Linked DNA regions of Homo sapiens. The protein of the gene in region 1 interacts with the protein of each later gene in a pairwise test. Each region holds a gene or a part of one and is shown in the gene's direction. Other genes may lie near its edges.

The links.
Region 2: the proteins of TSNAX (region 1) and MTCL2 interact in binary tests that used the Homo sapiens proteins (3 or more experiments, as listed by UniProt).
Region 3: the proteins of TSNAX (region 1) and TOP3A interact in a two-hybrid assay, tested with the Homo sapiens proteins (one large-scale study listed by BioGRID).
Region 4: the proteins of TSNAX (region 1) and DNAJB6 interact in binary tests that used the Homo sapiens proteins (3 or more experiments, as listed by UniProt).
Region 5: the proteins of TSNAX (region 1) and CDK5RAP2 interact in a two-hybrid assay, tested with the Homo sapiens proteins (one large-scale study listed by BioGRID).
Region 6: the proteins of TSNAX (region 1) and MECOM interact in a two-hybrid assay, tested with the Homo sapiens proteins (one study listed by BioGRID).
Region 7: the proteins of TSNAX (region 1) and CHAT interact in binary tests that used the Homo sapiens proteins (3 or more experiments, as listed by UniProt).

Annotation. Positions count from the first base shown.
Region 1 is NC_000001.11:231,563,169-231,566,668, forward strand, and holds the end of TSNAX (translin-associated protein X), read left to right. Parts: intron 1-1,359; coding exon 1,360-1,737; 3' UTR 1,738-3,356; downstream 3,357-3,500.
Region 2 is NC_000020.11:36,811,539-36,815,038, reverse strand, and holds part of MTCL2 (microtubule cross-linking factor 2), read left to right. Parts: intron 1-2,194; coding exon 2,195-2,335; intron 2,336-3,500. UniProt on the Homo sapiens protein: Microtubule-associated factor that enables integration of the centrosomal and Golgi-associated microtubules on the Golgi membrane, supporting directional migration. Preferentially acts on the perinuclear microtubules accumulated around the Golgi.
Region 3 is NC_000017.11:18,273,962-18,276,994, reverse strand, and holds part of TOP3A (DNA topoisomerase 3-alpha), read left to right. Parts: intron 1-2,014; coding exon 2,015-2,193; 3' UTR 2,194-3,033. UniProt on the Homo sapiens protein: Releases the supercoiling and torsional tension of DNA introduced during the DNA replication and transcription by transiently cleaving and rejoining one strand of the DNA duplex.
Region 4 is NC_000007.14:157,361,004-157,364,503, forward strand, and holds part of DNAJB6 (dnaJ homolog subfamily B member 6), read left to right. Parts: intron 1-2,157; coding exon 2,158-2,267; intron 2,268-3,500. UniProt on the Homo sapiens protein: Has a stimulatory effect on the ATPase activity of HSP70 in a dose-dependent and time-dependent manner and hence acts as a co-chaperone of HSP70. Plays an indispensable role in the organization of KRT8/KRT18 filaments.
Region 5 is NC_000009.12:120,570,168-120,573,667, reverse strand, and holds part of CDK5RAP2 (CDK5 regulatory subunit-associated protein 2), read left to right. Parts: intron 1-1,626; coding exon 1,627-1,694; intron 1,695-3,500. UniProt on the Homo sapiens protein: Potential regulator of CDK5 activity via its interaction with CDK5R1. Negative regulator of centriole disengagement (licensing) which maintains centriole engagement and cohesion. Involved in regulation of mitotic spindle orientation.
Region 6 is NC_000003.12:169,083,007-169,086,712, reverse strand, and holds the end of MECOM (histone-lysine N-methyltransferase MECOM), read left to right. Parts: intron 1-1,669; coding exon 1,670-1,804; 3' UTR 1,805-3,206; downstream 3,207-3,706.
Region 7 is NC_000010.11:49,627,537-49,631,036, forward strand, and holds part of CHAT (choline O-acetyltransferase), read left to right. Parts: intron 1-71; coding exon 72-249; intron 250-3,500. UniProt on the Homo sapiens protein: Catalyzes the reversible synthesis of acetylcholine (ACh) from acetyl CoA and choline at cholinergic synapses.

The DNA of each region.
Region 1 (3,500 bases):
TTACCTGTATGCCTTTGTAGTTCCCACTACCTAAAATGTCCTTTGATGTAACTGCAACTTCACCTACCCTTTTATACATACCGTCTTTTAATAACAATTTAGGCATCGTCTCTACCAGAAAGAATTCAGTAGAGGGAAATTGATGTGGAGAGAGATTTCATGATGATATCATGATAGCAGCTAGCATTTGTTGAATATTTACTTTGTGTTGGGCATTATGCCAAGAACTTGGTAAATGTTCTCATTTAACCCTTAAAATAAACCTCTGAGGTAGGTACTGTTATCCCATTTTACAGATGAGGAAACTGAGGTTTAGAGAGATGAAATAACTTGCCCAAGGGCATACACCTTATGAAGCAAGGTCCTGGAAGAGGTGGGAGGAGATGGGTCAAGGTCATTTGGAAGAGTTAACCTCAAACAAGAGGAGGGACAACTCATCATCTGAGACTGGAGGATAGAAGGTAAAGATGGGTGTGGATATAAATTTTTTTTTTTTTTTTTTTTGGTAGGGATAAAGGCAGTTGTGAGAAATTGTGCTAGGTAAGCTGGCAAATGACCAGGTCACTGAAATTGGGCAAGGTTGTCTACTGAAAGTGAAGAGGTTTGGGATTTGAGTAGAGCCCTGAGGAGAGTGGTGAAAGGTTTGAAATTGTGTTTGAAGAGGCTGGAAAGAGAACCATCTAATGATAAGTAAAAGGATTGGAGAGTAATTTGTAGCGGTACAGACTCTGCAGTTGTGATTACCATTTTTTTTTAACTCAGTGAGTGGTACTCAGCCACCTGAATAAAGGACTAATGAGTATATTTTAGTATTGATTGAGGATTCTGTTTTTGCTGGGTAGGTGCAGTAGAAAATATAGCAGTCTAAGGGAATTGAGGATGCAGTGAGAGAATAATAAATTGTGATGGTGAGTGCTGAATAGGGAAAGACAAGAAGCCAGAAAAAGACTGAGCTTCTTAGGAAAACATTAATGGATCACAAACTTGGAGGGCTGTATGGTTTTTCATTTAAGAAAGTAATTGTCGTGCAATAAAGTTATTAAGCCTTGTTCAAGAATATTTTTATTTTGTACATCAAGTGGAGTTGGAAATAGTTGGTTTCATAATGATATATTTCAAAAGTATCTTGAAGTCATCTGGTTCATTTCACTACCCAGGGCACACATTCCTCCTGTAACATCCCAAGTGGTTATTAAGCAAAACAGATTTATTTTATTTAGAAAAAATTAGTATGACTGATTTGCTATTGATTTTGTACTTCTATAATAAATGTGATACATGCTATATTCACTCTTTTTCACAGTGTTCTTTCTTGTGTGTGTGTGTGTGTGTTTTTGTTTTGTTTTGTTTTTTTACCAGCCCTCCTCTGATGCACAGGATAAGCAGTTTGGTACTTGGAGACTGAGAGTCACACCTGTCGATTACCTTCTGGGAGTGGCTGACTTAACTGGAGAATTGATGCGGATGTGTATTAACAGTGTGGGGAATGGGGACATTGATACCCCCTTTGAAGTGAGCCAGTTTTTACGTCAGGTTTATGATGGGTTTTCATTCATTGGCAACACTGGACCTTACGAGGTTTCTAAGAAGCTGTATACCTTGAAACAAAGTTTGGCCAAAGTGGAGAATGCTTGTTATGCCTTGAAAGTCAGAGGGTCAGAAATTCCAAAACATATGTTGGCAGATGTGTTTTCAGTTAAAACAGAAATGATAGATCAAGAAGAGGGCATTTCTTAGAATCTAACGTTACTCAGTTACTAATTCTTTTGAGAACTCCTAAGAGACCAATTTGTAAGACTTATTTAGTATTTCATTTAACTTTATTGTGGCTTTTACATAGAAACATATTCAGTTGTACTTGTTTTAAATTGTATACAAGCTGTACATAAAATTAGCCAAATGAATCATTTCTTATATCTTATTCATGAAAGTTTGCATACAGATGTTTGCATATATGCCTTTTTGAATTTTTGCTGGTTAACCTTTATCATTTATCTTTGTAATGTGAACATGCTTCAGAGTGTACCTTTTGCCATAACCTATTTTAATTTACTTTTTCTGAAGTTTGGAGTGATAATTTTTAGTGGAAGCAATTTGTAATTTAAGTTGGTAGTTATATTATATATAGAAAAGATTTTTTAGTTAAACTTCTGGACATGAGCGTCCTGTTTAAATTTCTTGTTAATATCGTGCCAAGCCTCAAAAATAGGCTTATTCCATGGAACAAGAATTAAAAATGAATAAGCTATCAATATATAATTTAAGTACAAGTTTAGGCTGGGCGTGGTGGCTCACGCCTGTAATCCCAGCACTTTGGGAGGCCGAGGTAGGCAGATCACGAGGTCAAGAGATCAAGACCAGCCTGACCAACGTGGCGAAACCTCGTCTCTACTAGAAATACAAAAATTAGCTGGATATGGTGGTATGTGCCTGTAATCCCAGCTACTTGGGAGGCTGAGGCAGGAGACTCGCTTGAACCTGGGAGGCAGAGGTTGCAGTGAGCCGAGATTGCGCCACTGCACTCCAGCCTGGGTAACAGAGCAAGACTCCATCTCAAAAAAAGAAAGAAAGAAAAAAGAAAGTACAAGTTTATAAAGTATTATAGTGAAAAATTCGCATTCTGGCTGATTTTAAGCCATTTAAAATTTATATAAAACAACCTTCCATAAAAATTTGACAGGTGCCCAGATGTTGCTTTCTCCATTTATTTTTTGTTTTTTTTTAATCACAGTAGGTCTGATAGAGAATTGGAGCTAAATTATAATATTTTTGTTGGTAAAGTTGAGTTATATACTTGTACATACAATGGAAATGCTTTTAGTAGTGATTATTTAGCAATTTTTGTTTTTGTTATATTAGGCATGTTTGGAGGCTTTCCTATTCTAGCATTTAAATTTAAATTTTATTAAAATTAAATAATTTAAATCTAGCATTTAAATTTAAATAATTTAAGTCTAGCATTTACTTTTAAATAATTATAATGAAGTTTTGAAATACTAAGTTAATCCAGACCTTTAGTTGTCCCATGGTGTTAATAAAGTTGCCAAAGAAGATGTATTATGAACAATTCAGCAATAAGACAATTGTCAACACAGTTGAGAATAACAATGGTAATCGTTAGTAATATTTAGAATTGGAATTTGCCTACTGAAATAGTTATAGATGATTACTTGTGATGTGAAACTGAATTGAGCATGACAACCAGACATTTCCAGTTGGTTTTGTAAGTTTTGAGAATCTAGATACTGGGTTTTATTTTTTGAAAGATTAGCTCTGTTTGTAAGGGCTGATTCCTTGAAAATGTAATTTTCCAGAAAAACACCTAAAGAAAATAAAACATGGACATGCCTAGTAAATTCTGTTTTTTTGTTTGTTCGTGTTAGTGATGGTGGGTTTTTTGGTTTTGCAACTCACCTGTAGTCAACTCACTACAGGTGAGTTGGTGCCATTGCTACTGATATATCTCCACAGTTCATGTCATACTAATACTGTGGGTGTTA
Region 2 (3,500 bases), on another chromosome or scaffold:
CCAGGCTGAAGTGCAGTGGTGCAATCTCAGTTCACTGCAGCCTCGATATCCTGGGCTCTAGCCATTCTCCCCCCCTCACTCTCCTGAGTACCTGGGACTACAAGTGAGCACCACCACACCCAGCTAATTTTTATTTATTTTTTATTTTTTTTGAGACGGAGTCTCGCTCTGTCACCCAGGCTGGAATGCAGTGGCGCAATCTCGGCTCACTGTAACCTCCAACTCCCAGGTTCAAGCGATTCTCCTCTCTTAGCCTCCCAAGTAGCCAGGATTACAGGCGCCCTCCATCATGCCTGGCTAATTTTTGTATTTTTAGTAGAGATGGGGTTTCACCATGTTGGCCAGGCTGGTCTCGAACTCCTGACTTCAAGTGATCCGACCGCCTTTGTCTCCCAAAGTTCTGGGATTACAGGTGTGAGCCACTGTGCCTGGCCATAATTTTTAAATTTTTTTGTAGAGATGGAATCTTGCCATATTGCCCAGGCTGGTCTTGAACTCCTGAGCTTAAGTGATCCACCAGCCTCAGCCTCCCAAAGTGCTAGGACTATAGGTGTGAGCCACTGTGTGTGGCCTAATAGTCACATTTTAAATGTTCAGTATTTGTGTGTGTCTAGTAGAGTGGATCTAGAATATTTCATCCTTGCAGCTTGTCCTTCTAAATCCTTCTCTACACATCTATCATATATTTGTTTTTCCACCCAGATTGCTTTATATCTATTGTTACTACACAACTTATATTTTTAACGCAATGTATCAGTTTGTTAATTTATGATGCCTTGTCTGTTGTTCACACAGTTTTTGTGCTCACTGCTGAAGATGTCATGATTAGCAAAAACAGATATGATTCCCCCTCTCATGGTCCTTATCATCTAGTGGGGCAGAGTCACCCAAAATATCATGTCAGTGAATGTGCAATTAGACACTGAGAGAGGAATCTGAAGGAAGCGTACATGGTTTTATGAACAAGGAACTTGACCTAGACCCTATGCTGAGGGAAGGCCTCTGATCTGACCAGAGGTCAGAGGGATGGATGGCTGGGGGAACACAGTGTTTTCAGCAGAGCAAATAGCCTGTGCAAAGACACAGCTCAGATCAGAGGCGGAAGGAGCGTGGTGTGTCCAGGACACTGAGTGAAGAGACAATGTGAAGCTGGACTGCACTGAGCATGCGGGAGGTTTGATCTTCATCCTCAGAGCAATGGCAGGGAATTTTTCATTTCCAGGGAAAGAGAGCGATTTAGCACTTTCTTTTTTTCTTTTATCTTTTTTTTTTTTTTTTTTTTTTTTGAGACAGAGTCTTACTCTGTCGCCCAGGCTGGAGTGCGGTGGCACGATCTCAGCTCACTGCAACCTCCGCCTCCTGTCTCCGCCTTCCGGGTAGCTGAAATTACAATTCTCCTGTCTCCGTCTCCTGGGTAGCTGGAATTAGAGGCATGCCCCACCACACCTGGCTAATTTTTGTATTTTTAATAGAGATGGGGTTTCACGATGTTGGCCAGGCTGGTCTTGAACTCCTGACCTCAGGTGATCCACCTGCCTCGGCCTCCCAAAGTGTTGGGATTGCAGGTGTGAGCCATCGTGCCCTTCTGAGATTTAGCACTTTCTTTTTAACAACTATACAGTGGATATGTGCCATAATTTCTTTAACTCAAGACCTGTTGATCCGGTTTCATCTTGCTTTTTTAAGCAAGCACATTGCCTTTTTTTTTTTTTTTTTTTTTTTTTTAAAGAAACAGTCTTGCTCTGTTGCCCACGCTGGAGGGCAATGGTATGATCACAGCTCGCTGTAGCCTCAAATTGTAGATGGAATTACAGGCACATGCCACTGTGCCCATAGACTGCTCTATGTTATCTCCCTTTTGGTTCTTCTTGAAAGAGGGATGAACAGAGGTCACACATGTGATAGGACAGTTTGGGCTGACTCAAAAGGTTTGTGCACAAGGCACACATTCAGAAAATCACTTCGCACTTACCTACTCATTCATCCTTTCAGCAAACATTCATTAAACGGCAGCAGTGCCCCCAGCTGGGGCTGGGTCTGGGTTGCAGAGGTGAATCTACCAGGGTCCCAGCCCTCAGGTGGGTGGTTCAAGCCTCTTAGGGAGCGCAGAGGCCTGGGGTGGGTGTTTCTGGCACCCCTCGGGCCCCTCCCCATGGTGATCTTTGGTTTGTTCTGCCTGTGCCTCTGGGTGCAGCCACCTGACTTCAGGGACCTGCCGGAATGGGAGCCCAGGATCCGAGAGGCTTTCCGCACTGGTGACTTGGACTCTAAGCCCGACCCCAGCCGGAGCTTCAGGCCTTACCGAGCTGAAGACAATGATTCCTATGCCTCTGAGGTGGGTCTAGGCCTGAGCAAGCATGGGATTGGGTAGGAGGAGAGTGACTGAGCCCTGTCAAAAGCAGAGTGGTCCATATATCACTTAGCTGGTGAGGATATGGGTTTGGGGCATTCCATTTGGTTCCAGGCTTCTTGGCAGCCAAGGCCAGAAGGGAAATAAGGAAGTTTGGGACATTCTCATGGCCTGATCCAAGGAAACTTATAAACTCATCTGCATAAATTATTTTTTCTTCTGTACTAAATTCCACTGGGAATTTAACAATTTATGTAATTTAATGGAACTACTCATGTATGTAGCAGGAAGGCAGCAGTCTCTATAGCCAGGCAGTTTGGGTTTCAATTGTGGATCCACTCTATTCTGGCTGTGAGATCTTGGATAAGTCATTTTACCTCTCTGATTCTCAGTTTTCTCACATGTAAAATGAAGGTGCCTCACAGGGTTGTTGAAAGGATTAAATACATGAAAAGCCATAGCTTAAGGCATGGTCCACATTGGGTGAGGATGAGGAGGAGGAGGAGGATGATTATGATGATAATGACACATCTCTGGGACTCAGGGGACCTGAGTTCAAGTCTCAGTTCTACCAGTGTTCCTGTGTGACCTTGGACAGATTTCTACCTTCTGGCCACAGCTTCCCCATCTGTAACGGGAGGGTTAGAGTGAATGGTAGTTATTGAATTGCTAGGATTCTTTGATCCTCAGGGAATTCTGGGTAGTTCTGAGCCCCTTCTAAGCCTGCTGAGCTTCTCCTTGCTCTTCATAATGAGCCTGAAGCAGGAAAAGGCTCCTACGGACTGGGTGGAGTATCCCTGAAACCCTGAACCTTGCAGAGTCCTATGTATTTTCCAGCCTGAGCACCTTTCTGAGCATCTCTTGGAAGACAACTCTGTAGTCCCAGGAAGGTCAGCCCATGACTATGTGGGAAGGAGAAGCTCACTTGAAGCTGATGGATCAGACTCTCTAAGTGAGCTTCCTGGAAGCCATGGCAAAAAGAGAAAAAACTGAGATAACTTAGTTGTCATTTTCTAAGAAAAGGAAATAGGCCTATTCTTTTTTTTGTTTTTTTTTTTTTAGACTGAGTCTCGCTCTGTTGCCCAGTCTGGAGTGCAGTAGTGCGATCTTGGCTCACTGTAACCTCCATTTCCTGAGTTCAAGCGAATCT
Region 3 (3,033 bases), on another chromosome or scaffold:
TTAGGCTGGTCTCGAACTCCACCTCAGGTGATCCACCTGCCTTGGCCTCTCAAAGTGCTGGGATTACAGGCGTGAGCCACCGTGCCTGGCCCAGCCTCATTTCTTCAGATGAAGATGCCAACCCCGATGATATTTAGGAACCTGCCCAGGGTGACACAGCTTGGGCCAATGTCCGGGAACTGGGTGTCATGAGAAGTGGCACCTGGACATTGCATCAAGTTGAATGGTGTACGTGGAGGCACTTTGAATGGTTCCTCCTGCTCCAGTGCACAACAGAGCTTAAGTAGCTGAGAATGACCCAAAGGCCTAGTGGGAGCTTTGGAGTTGAGCAAATCTGGTTCCAAAGCTCAGCAGTATAACCTTGAACAAATGACTTAGCCTCTCTGCCTCAAGTTTGCTCAACAAGATGGTCCCTGCCTACATTCATAGGGTTCCTGTTTTAGAAAGGAGTTTAGTCTCAGACTATGATTCTTACACATGTGTCACTAGCCCGGCATGCACAGAAAGAAACCAGAGGTTTGGTAAAAACTGTGGGACTTGGAACTGGCTACCAGTGCTAATGGGGCCCAGAGATGGCCATTGCAGTGAGAGACCCACATTTGAAGTGAGATGCAGTCTGGCCTCTTGTCTCCCCACTTGGAAGGACATGGTATCTGACCTCCAGGCTGGCTGACTGACTGTCCTGGGTAAATGAGCAGCTGGTCTGGAAAGGCCTGTTGAGGGGACAGGAAGGGATCCAGAGCTGGACTTTCCTGCATGGAGGTGGGCCGCAGGTTGCCGGTCATAGGCTGCTTGTCTTTCCCACCCTACCACACAGGCCAGCTTGCTTGGGTTTCTGCCTCTGTAAAAAGGGCCGGCATGAAAGTCCACTTACCAAGTGAGTGTGGGACAATGTCTCCAAAGCTTAGGATTCTTGAGGGAGAGGTGTCAGGTAACATAAGGCAGCAGGCACATCGCACCTCAACCTTACAGAGTTGGACACAGTGTGAAGGGAGGCTGGCTGGTGGGGTGTACATGGCTGTATAAAAACTGATTCAGCCGGTCGGGCGCGGTGGCTCATGCCTGTAATCCCAGCACTTTGGGAGGCCGAGGCGGGTGGATCACGAGGTCAGGAGATCGAGACCATCCTGGCTAACACAGTGAAACCCCGTCTCTACTAAAAATACAAACAATTAGCCGGGCATGGTGGTCGGTCCCTGTAGTCCCAGCTACTCTCGGGAGGCTGAGACAGGACAATGGCGTGAACCCGGGAGGCGGAGCTTGCAGTGAGCCAAGATTGCACCACTGCATTCCAGCCTAGGCGACAGAGCCAGACTCCACCTCAAAAAAAAAAGGCCGGGCACGGTGGCTCACGCCTGTAATCCCAGCACTTCGGGAGGCCAAGGCGGGCGGATCACAAGGTTAGGAGATCGAGACCATCCTGGCTAACATGATGAAACCCGTCTCTACTAAAAATACAAAAAATAAAGTAGCCGGGCGTGGTGGCGGGTGCCTGTAGTCCCAGCTACTCGGGAGGCTGAGGCAGGAGAATGGCGTGAACCCGGGAGGTGGAGCTTGCAGTGAGTGGAGATCACGCCACTGCACTCCACACTCCAGCCTGGGTGACAGAGCGAAGACTCCATCTCAAAAAAAAAAAAAAAAAAAAAAAAAGTTGGTTCAGCCTTATCGTCTGCTGCTCTTTTTTTTTTTTTTTTTTTTTTTGAGACAGGGTCTTGCTCTGTTGCCCAGGCTGGAGTGCAGTGGTGTGATCACAGCTCACTGTAGCCTCCCAGGCTCAGGCATCCTCCCGAGTAGCTGTGACCACAGGCATACACCACACCTGGCTAATTTTTGCATTTTTTAAAGACAAGGTTTCACCATGTTGCCCAGGCTGATCTTGAACTCCTGGGCTCAAGCAATCCTCCTCCCTCAGCTTCCTAAAGTGCTGGGATTACAGGCATGAGCCACCGTGTTCAGGACTTGCCACTTCTGCATGTCAGTTCTAACCTCACCCCTCCCCTGACTCTCCCGACAGGGACTTCTGGAGCCCCGTCCTGGACAGGAGACAGAGGAAGAACCCTGGAGTCGGAAGCCAGAAGCAAAAGGCCCCGGGCCAGTTCCTCAGACATGGGGTCCACAGCAAAGAAACCCCGGAAATGCAGCCTTTGCCACCAGCCTGGACACACCCGTCCCTTTTGTCCTCAGAACAGATGAGCTCAGGGTAGGGTAGAGAACGCCACTTTCTCAGACCTGTCCCCTTTGTGTTTAGAAATGAGTTAACCAGGACCAAGTGGCCATTTAGTGTCCTGGAAACTTAGAGGACAGTGTTGGCCTTTGGAGTCGGGCCTTCTTGTGTTAAGGGGCACAAGGTCCAGATCACTCTGGAGCAGGCCAGCTCTGCTGGACAGTGACCCTCTTCCCAGGCCTCAGGAGTGACCATAGCCACTGCTGAAAAGTCACGCAGCTGCTCCCTCGGACCCCCCAAGGATGGTTGCTGTTAGCAGAGGATTGGTGCAGTCCCAGCTGAAGCCCACTGTGTGCCAAAGGAAGAAGCTCCCAGGGCTGCTTCCTTCACCTGCAGAAAGCCCCAAGTGAGCCACCAGCACTCATGGGGCAGTCCCTGTCCAGGCTGCCCAGGGCTTCTCATAGACGTCCTGAGAAGGACGGTGTAATGCAAGGAAATGGCTGTGGTAACACTGATCCTTCAGAAGAAGCTTCATTCCCTCTTAATCTAGTTAAGCCAGGACATCCAGAATTCATTGCTTTAATAAAGAACCCAGGCCGGGTGCAGTGGCTCATGCCTGTAATCCCAGCACTTTGGGAGGCTGTGGGGGGCGGATTGCCTGAGCTCAGGAGTTCGAGACCAGCCAGGGCAACATGGTGAAACCCTGTCTCTACTAAAATACAAAAAATTAGCCAGGTGTGGCGGTGTGCGCCTGTAGACCCGGCTACTCAGGAGGCTGAGGCAGGAGAATTGCTTGAACCCGGGAGGCGGAGGTTGCAGTTAGCTGAGATTGCGCCACTGGACGACAGAGCGAGACTCAGTCTCAAAAA
Region 4 (3,500 bases), on another chromosome or scaffold:
GTCCTGCATTCTCATCCATTGCCAAGTTTTCATATGAACACTAGATGATAGGTAGTACTGCACACTAATCATTTTTTCTCTTTTGTCTTTTGTATGGTCTGTTATTTTTGACTGAGGATTTCTGGCACATTTAGGGTTATTTGATCCACTGCTACACGTTTTTTTTTTTTTTTGAGACGGTGTCTCGCTATGTCACCCAGGCTGGAGTTCAATGGCGTGATCTCGGCTCACTGCAACCTCTGCCTCCCAGGTTCAGGCGATTCTCCTGCCTTAGCCTCCCGAGTAGGTGGAACTGCAGGCGCCTGCCATGATGCCCAGCTAATTTTTATATTTTTAATAGAGACGGGGTTTCACCATGTTGGCCAGGATGGTCTCGATCTCTTGACCTCGTGATCTGCCTGCCTCAGCCTCCCAAAGTGCTGAGATTACAGGCATGAGCCACTGCGCCCGGCTGCTACATGTTTGTTTAGGTCCACAGTGACATAAATTACTGTTAAGTATTCTGGACTCCAGCTTTAATCAGATTTTAGTATGGTTAAGCCAAGGTTTTGTTGAACATGTTGTAAGTTAAATTGAGCCACAACAGCTTTACAGTAATAACTTGCCTAGTGTTAAAAGCACTGTCAGATTAGTATACTAGTCTGAAATTTTGAGGGGTATGCTGCTTCTCTTTTTTAACGTTACCCTCCTTTTGAATATATGCTGCTTAGGTTTTGCTAATTAGACTAGAGGATTTTTTTGTATTCATTCATTCATTCATTCATTCATTCATGCATTCATGTTGAGCCGGAGGCTCGCTCTGTCACCTAGCCTGGAGTTCAGTGGCACGATGTTGGCTCACTGCAACCTCTTTCTCCTGGGTTCAAGCAATTCTTCTGTCTCAGCCTCCTGAGTAGCTGGGATTACAGGTGCGTGCCTTCATGTCCGGCTTTTTGTATTTTTAGTAGAGATGGGGTTTTGCCATGTTGGCCAGGTTGGTCTCGAACTCCTGACCTCAGGTGATCCACCCACCTCGGCCTGCCAGAGTGCTGGGATTACAGGTGTGAGCCGCTGCACCCGGCCTTTTTTTTTGTATTTAAATAGCGTGCAATTATTTGGTCAGTTGGAACTCTGCAACAGAATATGACCTTGGTCATAGAATCTTTGTAGAAGTCAGTGTTTTAACTCTGTTTAGATCTTGAATCTGGCACAGAGGGTGTTTGAAAGATTCTGAGATCCTGGCCTGTTGGGTGGCAGGTGATTCACCTTTGGCACACAGATGAGCTAGGTAGTGGGGCTGGCTGAGGAAGTAGGGTCCTGGGAATCAGAACATGGAAGGATATGAATGGTGATGTTGGATCTTGCTGCTCAGTGACCCAGGCCTTTTTTTCCCTTTTTAAAAATTTTTTGAGACGGAGTTTCGCTCTTGTTGCCCAGGCTGGAGTGCAATGGTGCGATCTCGGCTCACCACAACCTCTGCCTCCCAGGTTCCAGTGATTCTCCTGCCGCAGCCTCCTGAGTAGCTGGGATTACAGTCAAGTACCACAATGCCCGGCTAATTTTGTATTTTTAGTAGCGTTGGGGTTTCTCCATGTTGGCCAGGCTGGTCTCGAACTTCTGACCTCAGGTGATCTGCCCACCTCCCAAAGTGCTGGGATTACAGGCATGAGCCACCACGCCTGGCCTTTCTCCTTTACTTCACATACTTGCTCAGTCTTGTCACTGTCAGTCCACGTTGTGGACACTGTGATCTTTATTTTTCTATCTCTAGAGGTTCGTTTGTATTATGCTATCAGGATTTTTATTCTAAAACTTACTTTAATGAGTATTTTTACAATTTTAATTTTGAGACAGTCTTGTTCTGTCGCCCAGGCTGGACTGCAGTGGTGTGATCATAGCTCACTGTAGCCTTGAACTCCTGGCCTCAAGCAGTTGTCACGCCTCAGCCTCTGGAGTAGCTGGGTCTATCTGTGGCTGCACGCCACTACGCCTGGCTATCTGGATTTTAGAACTTTGTGTATTTCATTGTAGAGGAAAGGGAGGTTTTACAGTTAAAACCAGTATTCATCTCACCAGTTGGCAGCTCTGAAGCCATTCTCGTGGTTAATGATGTTAGTTTCAAAAGCATAGTTGATTTCTGGATTTAGAATGTGATCTATATCCTTTATTCTTTCCAAGATATCGGAAACTGGCACTGAAGTGGCATCCAGATAAAAATCCTGAGAATAAAGAAGAAGCAGAGAGAAAATTCAAGCAAGTAGCGGAGGCATATGAAGTGCTGTCGGATGGTGAGTGACAGCGAGCTGCTGAAGGACCCTGAGCGGGCATGCCGGAATGCGGAGTGGGTGTTGGGATCCTCCTCAGGGTAGCACAGTATGGACTCAAGTGACTTGTTTTTGATGCCTACTGGATTTTGGGCCCTTCTAAGAGATTTTTACTTTTCTCGTGAAGATTTGAATTGATTTAGGTAACCACGAGTGCTGGGGAGCTCCAGGGCTTCTAGTAGTTTCTCCTAGGATGGCTGTTTTAAAAGCGGGACTAGACATCCTGGGTTTGAGGAACCTGGGAGAGAGGAGGTTGCGGGACTCAGGTCACTGTGCATGTGGCGTGCTTGCCCCCGTTGTGTGTGATCATTCTGACCTTGCTCACCCCCACTGGCTTAAACAATACCATTCCAGTGGAGTCAGCTTTACTGCTTGAGAGGATGTCATTAGTTCCCAAAAAGAGGGGATGGAACATACAGCTAAAATTTAGATTTCCAGTTTCAGGCCTGTTTTCCCCTCCTAGGTCTGGAGCAGAGGTGTTCTATGTTACTGGAAGTCAGATCCATTGGCCTAGTTCACAAATGGGTGAGGGGTCAGAGGTCAGCTGTCGCCTAGATGCAGTCAGGGTTCCATGGGGGAAGTAAAGGCTGTGCATGGGGCCTGGGGTGGGGGAACAGTGACAGAACTGGAAAGCCACACAGTGCCCCTGTCTGCTGCAGTGCTGGGTGGCCTGTTGTGAGCAAAGGCCGAGGCTTTTCCAAGGTTAGGGATGGACTAACTGAACCCTGGAAGTGGGCACTTGGTTAAGTGTATCTGCATGTGGTCAGGTAATTGGCCCTTATTTACAACAAAAAAAATTTTTTTTTTTTTTAAAGAACCCAATTTGAGGCAGAGGTTGCAGTGAGCCGAGATTGCGCCACTGCACTCCAGCCTGGGCGACAGTGCGAGACTGTCTCCAAAAAACAAAACAAAACCAAACCAATCAGAAGGAACCCAGTGTAAGCTTGCCACCTTCAACAGCTACCAGCACACCACCAGCCTTGCTTTCTCTGGTGACACTGTGGCCCACCCCCTTTGTTTTAGAGGAAATTCCAAACATTTTACTTCAAAAAATATGAAAAGACATAAAAACACCGATATTTGAAGTCTTCTTGAAATGTGGCATTTAAGGTCTTGAACTGTTGAGCTTATTCATTGGAAAGTTTATTTTTTTTAAAGAGAGAGGATCTTGCTATGTTTCCTAGGGAGGCCTTGAAC
Region 5 (3,500 bases), on another chromosome or scaffold:
GTGACTTCAGTATTTATGTACTGTATATATTTGTTTTCATAATTGAGGACATATTCTGTTTACGTTTTTTCATTTACCTTTACAGGGGACACTTTTTTTTTTAAATTTTTTTTTTTTTTGAGATGGAGTCTCACTCTATCACCCAGGCTTGAGTGCAGTGGCATGATCTCAGCTCACTTCAACCTCTGCCTCCTGGGTTCAAGTGATTCTCCTGCCTCAGCCTCTCAAGTAGCTAGGACTACAGGCACCTGCCACAATGCCCGGCTAATTTTTGTATTTTTATTAGAGATGGGGTTTTACCATGTTGGCCAGGCTGGTCTCGAACTCCTGATCTCAAGTGATGCACCAGCCTTGGCCTCCCAAAATACTGGGATTATAGGCATGAGTCACTGCACCCAGCCCGGACACATTTTTTTGTGATCATTTTCTTAATGTTGGAATTTTATGATATTTCCAATTTTTTGCCTGTTTTTGATCTTGAAGGTACATTCCAACTCCAAAGTTTGGTGGTCAGGCAAAATTATCCTAGGAGCACAATGAATTTGGATTTAGAGGCATGGAAAGAGCAAATTGCCAAGAAGTCAAGCTGTTTCCATCAACTCCTACTTTACAGTGTGGGATAGGGAAGTATTCGTGGGAGTTGGACATAAAAGACCTGGCTTCTGGACCTGGCTCTCCACAGAACCGCCATGTGACCCTGGCTAGGACAGTAAAATTGTCTGGGCCTTGGGGCCTTCCTTTGAAAAATGTGTGCACCCTCAGGGAATTAGGCAATTCTAATGATGGTAAATCTTTTATAAATTGTAAAGCACTGTAGGTTTCAAGGCGACATGATATTTTGCTCCCATTTGTGGAGTACCCACAAGGTACCTTGCAATATCTTGTTTAATTGCCAGTTACTCTGTGAGGTAGCTGCTGTACTCATTTTACAGCTAAAGAAAGTGAGGCTCAGAGAGATACATGGCAGAGCTTAGAATAGATCAGGGTAGTGTCTTTTGTGTCACACCACACCTCCTATTATGGGTTAGTTTTCTGTCAGTGTCTCCAGATCCTCACTGAATTTATTTATGTAATTCAACCAAGACAACTTCTTGGATCAGTGAATTTTGCATTGTTTGACATTCTTAAAACATCTAAATTGGTGTCTGATTCCCAGAGGTGGTGATAGGCATATTAGTAGTCATAATGATAATAGTAACAACAACAATAGTTGCCGTTTACTGAATACTTACTATGTGCTTTGTGTTTATATACATGAACGAATTTAATTTTTACAGGGAGGGCATGGTATCCTCATGTACCAGATTAAGAGGGTGAGACTCAGAAACATAAGTATCTTGTACTTGTCACAGTGCCTCTGCCACTAGCACATATTTGGCACACAGAACATTTGATGTATGACTGAATGAATGATGTTACTGAAGGTCACTCAGCTATCAAGTGTTGGAGCTGGAACTCAGCCCCAAAGCCTGAGTTCTTAACCTCTGTGCTTCATGCCACATAGGTAGCCCAGCTGTGTGCATCCCTCCTGGCCATGGGATGATTGTCATGTGCAGTCCAGACCGTCTTAACAGTCTCTGTTGTTCAAACATTAGCTCATCTCTTATCTCATGTGTTCTCTCCTAGTGGCCTTGTTCCCAGTGTACCAGATGACCTGGATGGCATCAACCCCAATGCTGGGTTGGGAAATGGTCGTAAGTACACAAAACCAGGCATTCTCTTGAGTAAAGAACAAGGAAAGTAGACATTGGACTGTGAGCATCTTGAGCTTTCATATCTCTGGGGCCCAGAGGCTTCCCTGAACTGGCACACCGTAGGTGCTCAGTATTTTTTGTATGTATTGATTTGCTTTCCACCTCCTTTCATAAACACTGGACTAGAGGAATTGTTGTCCTTTTGGCCATACTTCATGAGTTTCATTTGTTGCTACTAAAGCTATAGGGATTCAGTGAGCGTTTGCTGAACTGAACAACTGCACGGAGGCTGGACATTGAATTGGCAGCTAGGCCAGTGGCTGGAGGCCCAGGAGAGCTGCCATCTGGACTGTAGCGTGCCAAGGCCTTCCTGGCAGGCTGCTGGATCCTGTTTGCCGGCTGAGGCCCCGCATTCCTACACGGGCCTGCCCTTTGGAGACAAATAGCTGGTTAGACCACAGGAGACGGCTCTGAGTAAATAAGTAGCGTACTGTGTTTAAGCTGGATTATGAGGAGACTTTGCAGTTTGGGTCTAGCTAAGCATTCTTCATAATTTTTATTTCTGAAAAAAGTGAATGCTTAAGCGTCTCTGTGGGTAGTGCTAGTTTTTGCAAAATATCTCTAAGATATTTTGACTTGTTCTTTTTTTTCTCTTCTCCACAGTGCTGAGATATGTGCAAGAGGAGGGAGATTTTGGAGCAGACAGGAAAAGAGTCCCACGGTTTATTTCTGGAAAATCCCTTAACTTACAGGGCACCTTCATGTTTTCCTGAGGAACCTATTAACTTTTACTTTATTTTTACTTTTTATTTTTTTGAGACATGGTCTTGTCCTGTCACCCAGGCTGGGAGTGCAGAGGTGCGATCACGCACACTGCAGCCTTGACCTCTTGGACTCAAGCAATTCTCCATCTCAGTCTCCCTAGTATCTGGGACTACAGGCGTGTGCCACGACACCTGGCTAATTTTTGTATTTTTTGCAGGACGGTTTTGCCATGTTGCCCAGTCTGGTCTCGAATTCCTGGACTCAAGTGATCCACCTGCCTCAGCTTCCCGAAGTGCTGGGATTACAGGCATGAGCCACTGCACTCATTGGCAACTTTTACTTTAAATGCAAAATCCAACAAGTCTGATTTGAGATGGAGTCTCGCTCTGTTGCCCAGGCTGGAGTGCAGTGGTGTGATCTCGGCTCACTGCAACCTCCGCCTCGTGGGTTCAAGCAATTCTTCTGCCTCAGCCTCCCGAGTAGCTGGGATTACAGGCACGTGCCACCACACCCAGCTAATTTTTGTATTTTTAGTAGAGACAGAGTTCACCATGTTGGCCAGGCTGGTCTCGAACTTCTGACCTCAGGTGATCCACCCGCCGCAGCCTCCCAAAGTGCTGGGTTTACAGGCATGAGCCACTGTGCCTGGCCAGCCTATTTCTTAATTTAGCCGATAGTATACATTTGCTTCATGCCAGACTCTGGGCTCAGTGCTAAAATTCAACCTCAAATGTGGTTACTGTTAAGCTGAGAAGACAGACAAACCCTTATGAGAATTTGTATGGTCAGTGTCAGGAGCAAAGATGTATCAAGTGCTGTGAGAGGGGATTAAAGGGAGATTTCCTCTGGTGTGGAGGTGGGTCAGGCTAGAGTTTCCCAAGAAATTGATATTGGAGCGGAGACCTGAATAAGTCAGATGTAGGTAAGGAAAAAGGAGGGGATGAGCATCCCAGACACAGGTGAGGGCATGGCCCGTTTGAGGAACAGGAAAACAAACTAGCGTGCCCTTCACAGTCTGCCCTGCCCACTCCTTAGCCTCTT
Region 6 (3,706 bases), on another chromosome or scaffold:
GTAAAAATTAATTTCATGGTAATAGGTACTATTTATGTATTACCTCAGTCAGGCACACTGAGCTAAACACTTTATGTAAGTTAGTGCATGTGATTCCTCCACAACTCTTGGAGGCCAATACTGTTATTACTATCATCTGTTTTATAGGAGGAAAGTAAAGCTTAAAAGGTTAAGCAACTTGCTCAAGATCACACAGCTAGGTGAGTAGAGGCAGGTTTAAAGGCAGGATTAAAATTTAAATTCCAAAATTTTCTTTGTACTCCTTTTTATCTTCCCAAATATCAGAATTTGTTTTAACTCTTTCAGAGTACTCTTTATCTTGTTCTCTAAAAGTAGGTACATAATCAGAATAGATAATTTAGGTTGAATGCTCACTTAACCCATACTTTAAACTCTGCCAAAGATAAGTACTCTATATTATTTATTCTTAATTTCTTAGGATCTATCACAGAGCCTGGCATAGAGTAGATGCTTAAGAAATATTTGTTAAATGGATCATGAGATATTGTAGAAGTCCAAAAGGCAAATTGCATACATAAAAGTCAAATGTGTACATTTAGAGCGATGACCCAGCAAATCAAAAATCAGCCTACAAGGGTAAATTTTCTAACTAAATGCAATGATTACGGAAGAAACCACAGACTGGCCACATGTCTCAGCATGACTCCCAGAGATGAAATTCTGCCTAACAACAGAGGCATTTTGTCTTTGTTTACAGACAGTGGAATGTCTTTGGCAGGACTTTAATGATTCCACTTCAGCAGCATTTTGACAAGCAAGTTTAGCAATGGATGAGACCAACAATAGCAAATCAACAGTGAAAAGTTCACTTACAAGTCAAGACCAAACATTTCATTTGAATATTTTGCTTGGCAGTAAATAGGGGACTCTCTGAACAGTTATTTAAAATTTGACATGATAATAGGGAAGAAAGAGTACTTCCTCACAGAGCACCTCCATGCACCTTCTGCTCAGCAGACACTGGAAAACAAGTTGATTAGAACACTGTTGGGTCTTGTGTTTGGTTTTATTTTTTTGGTAGAGCTGATTTGATCCACCTCAACTTATGGGTGCCAGGACTGAGTATGTCAAGCATGGAGGGAAATTGGAGAAAAGACAATGGATTAAAAGTTGGGCAGAAATACATTTTAGTTATGCTTCTCCCACTATCTATCTAATTGAGTGACTTTGGGCAAGTCACTCAAGCACCTTCAGTGCTTTCGGTTATAAAGTGTAGGAGTCAGGCTGTATCCTCTACTAGGCCACAGCTCTGTCAAGGTAGGTCTATATCTTATTAATATTTGAGGTTTCAGTCATAAGCACACAATAATATTTTTGGTGAATTGAACATATGTAGTGGATGGATGACTGTATTTATAGTTGAACAGGAGACTGACTCATTTTTCTCAATGGAAGCACTATTTGCATTTTAGGTAGGATAGTTCTTTTTGGTTCTGTAGCGTGTGTCACTTTTGGGGCCCCTAGGCACTAAAGGCCAGCAGTAATCCCATGTGGTTTCTACAAAAAATATGCCTTCTTTGCCAAACACACCCATGAAGGATGCCCCTACTCAGGGTCCCATCCCTTTCCATTTACCAACAATATTCTTTGAACTAAAAGTGATGTTTTTCAAATGCCATTTACTGAGTCTCTCTCCTTTTTACCCCAGGCATATGCTATGATGCTGTCACTGTCTGACAAGGAGTCCCTCCATTCTACATCCCACAGTTCTTCCAACGTGTGGCACAGTATGGCCAGGGCTGCGGCGGAATCCAGTGCTATCCAGTCCATAAGCCACGTATGACGTTATCAAGGTTGACCAGAGTGGGACCAAGTCCAACAGTAGCATGGCTCTTTCATATAGGACTATTTACAAGACTGCTGAGCAGAATGCCTTATAAACCTGCAGGGTCACTCATCTAAAGTCTAGTGACCTTAAACTGAATGATTTAAAAAAGAAAAGAAAGAAAAAAGAAACTATTTATTCTCGATATTTTGTTTTGCACAGCAAAGGCAGCTGCTGACTTCTGGAAGATCAATCAATGCGACTTAAAGTGATTCAGTGAAAACAAAAAACTTGGTGGGCTGAAGGCATCTTCCAGTTTACCCCACCTTAGGGTATGGGTGGGTGAGAAGGGCAGTTGAGATGGCAGCATTGATATGAATGAACACTCCATAGAAACTGAATTCTCTTTTGTACAAGATCACCTGACATGATTGGGAACAGTTGCTTTTAATTACAGATTTAATTTTTTTCTTCGTTAAAGTTTTATGTAATTTAACCCTTTGAAGACAGAAGTAGTTGGATGAAATGCACAGTCAATTATTATAGAAACTGATAACAGGGAGTACTTGTTCCCCCTTTTGCCTTCTTAAGTACATTGTTTAAAACTAGGGAAAAAGGGTATGTGTATATTGTAAACTATGGATGTTAACACTCAAAGAGGTTAAGTCAGTGAAGTAACCTATTCATCACCAGTACCGCTGTACCACTAATAAATTGTTTGCCAAATCCTTGTAATAACATCTTAATTTTAGACAATCATGTCACTGTTTTTAATGTTTATTTTTTTGTGTGTGTTGCGTGTATCATGTATTTATTTGTTGGCAAACTATTGTTTGTTGATTAAAATAGCACTGTTCCAGTCAGCCACTACTTTATGACGTCTGAGGCACACCCCTTTCCGAATTTCAAGGACCAAGGTGACCCGACCTGTGTATGAGAGTGCCAAATGGTGTTTGGCTTTTCTTAACATTCCTTTTTGTTTGTTTGTTTTGTTTTCCTTCTTAATGAACTAAATACGAATAGATGCAACTTAGTTTTTGTAATACTGAAATCGATTCAATTGTATAAACGATTATAATTTCTTTCATGGAAGCATGATTCTTCTGATTAAAAACTGTACTCCATATTTTATGCTGGTTGTCTGCAAGCTTGTGCGATGTTATGTTCATGTTAATCCTATTTGTAAAATGAAGTGTTCCCAACCTTATGTTAAAAGAGAGAAGTAAATAACAGACTGTATTCAGTTATTTTGCCCTTTATTGAGGAACCAGATTTGTTTTCTTTTTGTTTGTAATCTCATTTTGAAATAATCAGCAAGTTGAGGTACTTTCTTCAAATGCTTTGTACAATATAAACTGTTATGCCTTTCAGTGCATTACTATGGGAGGAGCAACTAAAAAATAAAGACTTACAAAAAGGAGTATTTTTCCCCACTGTGTGGTATTTTTCCTTCATGCAATTTTACTTTCCCTTTGGGATCCAATGATTTAAAGATATGATGCTGAGATCTTGATGCCCTACAGATATGTGGAATGTAGAGTATGTTTGTTTTGTTTTGAGATAGCATAAATGATAGTTCTTGGGCAACAATGAGTCTCGCTTATTGTTCTGTACTTTCCCCATGTGGTGCAGTCAGGGCTCAAGTGCACCACAACCCAGTCCTGGTATCACTTCACGTTCACAGCATCCACTTAAATTAGGACAAAGAGCGACTTACAGGTTTTCTACGGATTGTATGCCAAAAGGAACTCAGTTTCTTATTTTTGTTTTTCATTATACGAGTAGTGTTAACTGATTCACAAAGGGGGGAAACCTTTGACTTTTCTATGCTCCTTTTAATTTTTTGTCCACATGCAAAATATCCTTTTTTCATTGTTATAACTGCGTGTAAACAAGATTTATTTTTTCTTTCTTTGCTTG
Region 7 (3,500 bases), on another chromosome or scaffold:
TGAAGGCTGAGTGAAGGCCTGGTGCCACGGGCCACCCAACAAGTGACATGTTTGACCTGTTTACCCCACAGTTCTTTGTCTTGGATGTTGTCATTAATTTCCGCCGTCTCAGTGAGGGGGATCTGTTCACTCAGTTGAGAAAGATAGTCAAAATGGCTTCCAACGAGGACGAGCGTTTGCCTCCAATTGGCCTGCTGACGTCTGACGGGAGGAGCGAGTGGGCCGAGGCCAGGACGGTCCTCGTGAAAGGTCAGCCGCAGTGCCCAGCACATCTCCATGCCCATCTCATGCTCGTGCCCATTGGCTTTCCCTCCTCTAGGGTTGGGCCAGGGCCTCATCCCCATCAGCCATAGTGTGGGAGCTCAGGGCCCACAGCATGCCCTGCGGCCAGCCACAGTGCCTTGCCACCGAAGCCACCTTTTGTGCCCTCGTGTTCCATCTGACAGTATCTGGCTTTCTTGGTGGGACTAACTAGTGCTGGAATTGGGGATGTCTGAGAATACTGGGCGGGGCGGGGGAGTTAGCTGGAGGAAGGCTGGCTGCAAGTGAGCAGGTGTGTTTTCCTGGTGGGTGGCGCTCACTGATAGTGGCTGGGGGAGTCGCTGAATGGGGGTGTGGGATGGAGCCTGCCTCTGGGAAAGTGGTTCACCACCTCTTTCACCTGATCTCTCCATCCTGGGACTCTTCATCTTCAAGCTGTCCCTTATCTTGTGGCACTGTTCTGATGAAAGTCTCCAAGCATTCCCATAAGAAAGCCAGGAATATTCTTGAAAATTTTTCATCACCCTTCTGGAAACTACTTTCAAATCCAAAGCTGGTCCTATTCCAGGAGCTGATGGAATGCTCTCCTTCCTTGCCCATGTTAGAGACACTGGATGAGAAGCAAGACTTCTGTGAGTCTTTATTTACCCCTCAGAATTTTACTGGGTCAGGCAATCTATTCAGACTCTCCACATCTGTTACTGAGGGCCCTGGGCTTGGCTCAGGGAGTATGGGAGACAAAGGAGTTGAGGCCTCTACCCAAGAGCAGCCCCATGATGGGAACAGGAAGAGGGGGCATGGGGAGGAGACTCACATCCAGGTGCATGCAGTGCTGACCCACTTCAGACAGGCGTCAAAAACGTGCTCCAGGACTTCAGAGAGGGGACGGAGCCCTTCCGAGTGGGATTGTGAAAGGCTCTGTTAGAAGAGGTGGGAATGGAACAAAGCCCCATGGCATGAGTGAGAAAGGCTGGAGGGAAGGATGGTACCCAGGCAGGCAGACCAACCCTGGGCAAAGCCCGAGGCCCAGCAGGGACACACCCACCTTACCCCCAGGGTGAGGAGGAGAATAGCTGCCCAGCAAAGGTGGCCTGAGCCGGATGTACTGGGCCTATTTTTTCTAACAGCCACTTGCATTTTCTGGTCTCTCTCTAGAAGGGTCTTCCCCCAGATCCAGCTGGCTCCTTGCCGCACGCAGAGCTCAGCCCAGGTGTCCGGCCTCAGGCCTGCCTTGGGCATCCTTCCCGCACACTCTGTCACTGTGGCCCGTTCGCTTACCTTGACTCTGTTGCTCACTCTCTGAGGACAACTTTGCATTTGTTTGATAAATGCTGATTATCTGCCTTTCCCCCCACCTCCTACCCACTGCCTATAAGGTCAGAAGGACAGGGGCCTTGTCTGTTTGGTTTAATTTCTGAGAAACACAGTCTGGGCCCAGTTACATTTATTAAATAAAAGAGTGAAGGGTGATTAAAAATGCCAGGCCCCAGACTTATTCCCCGACTTACCAATTAATTATTCTTTCATCCAATTATTGGGCACCTCCTGAATGCTGTCATAAATAGGGGGCTGCAGGAGCCAAAGAGGGGTGTGAGAGCTGACTGCCCTCCCGGACCTAACCTCGTGCTGGAGAATTAATAACTTAGCATTCCGCAGTGAGTTAATTCCCTCGGGAGACCATGGTGTAATCAAATCCCACTCTTCTCCCCTTCAGGGACAGAGACAGGCATCAAAATAATCGCCTCTGCCTCCAGCATAGTTTCCACTTTATTAGCAGGCCAGGCCCAAGACACGCCCTTCAGGGCTGGCTGGATTGCCCCAAGGTCTGAGCACTTGGGCTGCAGATCAGAATTGATTTGTTAATGGCACTTGATCTGGCTTTCTGAATGGAAGTGCTGTTTCTGAGGGAAATGCGACAGAAAGGAGGGGACACATGCGCCTCCCCTTGGGTAATCCGATTAATCCAGTTAGCGCCAACTGTGTCATCTACACAACAGGAAACTGATCCTTCACAGATCCCCCCTCCCCAGAGCAGCCCTGCCTATGGAACAGAAACAGAGAGACCATTTACAAAATGATTTCGGTTTCCCAGTGAAAGAGTATGGCAGCTTGGGACAGGGTTGAGAGTGAAGATGGAGAGACCAGTGACGTCAAGGCCATTGAAAGCGAGAACAATTCCTGGGCTTTTTATCCGAGCCGTGAGTGGATGTTAGTGCCATTTAGTAAGATGGGAAACAGGGTCGGGGAGTGGGTACAGGATGGAGAAATCATTGCCACACATGTTGGGTTAGAGGTGCTTGGGTCATCTGGGTGGAGACGTCAAGCTTAATATATATGTTTGGAGCCCAAGGGAGAGGTCAGTACAGAGCAATAAATTTGAGGGACATCAGCGCATAAATGATCCTTAAAGTCATGGACCTGGGTGAGATAATCTAGAAACAGAAGAACAGGGAGCCTGGAGGTCAGGTAGAGAAGGATGCAAAGGGGATTGAGAAAGAGTAGCCCATGAAGTAAAGGAAAGCCAGAAGAGTCACAAAGATTCAAGACAGAGGGAACGGCCAGCCACATGGAATGCTGTGGAGAGCTGGAGGAGGAACAGGACACAGGGGACCCGGCTTGGCAACCCTGAAGTTGTCACTGGGCTTACTGAGGGTCAGACTGGAGTAGCAGGAGAACAAATGCTTGCACACTGACAGAAGTGATCCAACAGCAGAAAGAAATTGTCGATGAGGCAGTCAGTGAGTTGAACCAGTGAGTATGGTCGACTTTTTCTCAGACATTTTGACACTAAAAGGAGCAGAAAAATGAGGGAGTTGCTAAAAGAGGATGAGGGTCAAGGGAGGTGTTTTTAGGAGGAGAGACAAATGTATGGAAGGAATTTAGTAAAAGAAATTGATGAAGAGATAGGAGATGAATGGAGGGGTGGAATTCTTGCAAAGGCAAAAGGAGATAGAACTCAGAAAATAAGAGGCCTTTGGTTGGTACAGGGTGAAGTGGAAAGCTTGGGCCTGAGGCAGCAGAGGTAGGAGCATGCAGAGGCTCCCAACTGGTACCTCCTGGTCTCAGATCACAACCTTGAGATAAGAGGCGGGCAGTTGGATGTTGAAGATGAAATCGACTGTGTGAAATAGCCTCCTGGAAAGTGGGAAAGAAGACTTGAAAAACTTGATAAGATTTATGGACTGTGTTGAGCTCATATATGAAGGTTCAAAGTGATACATTTTAGGAGAGGCTAATTA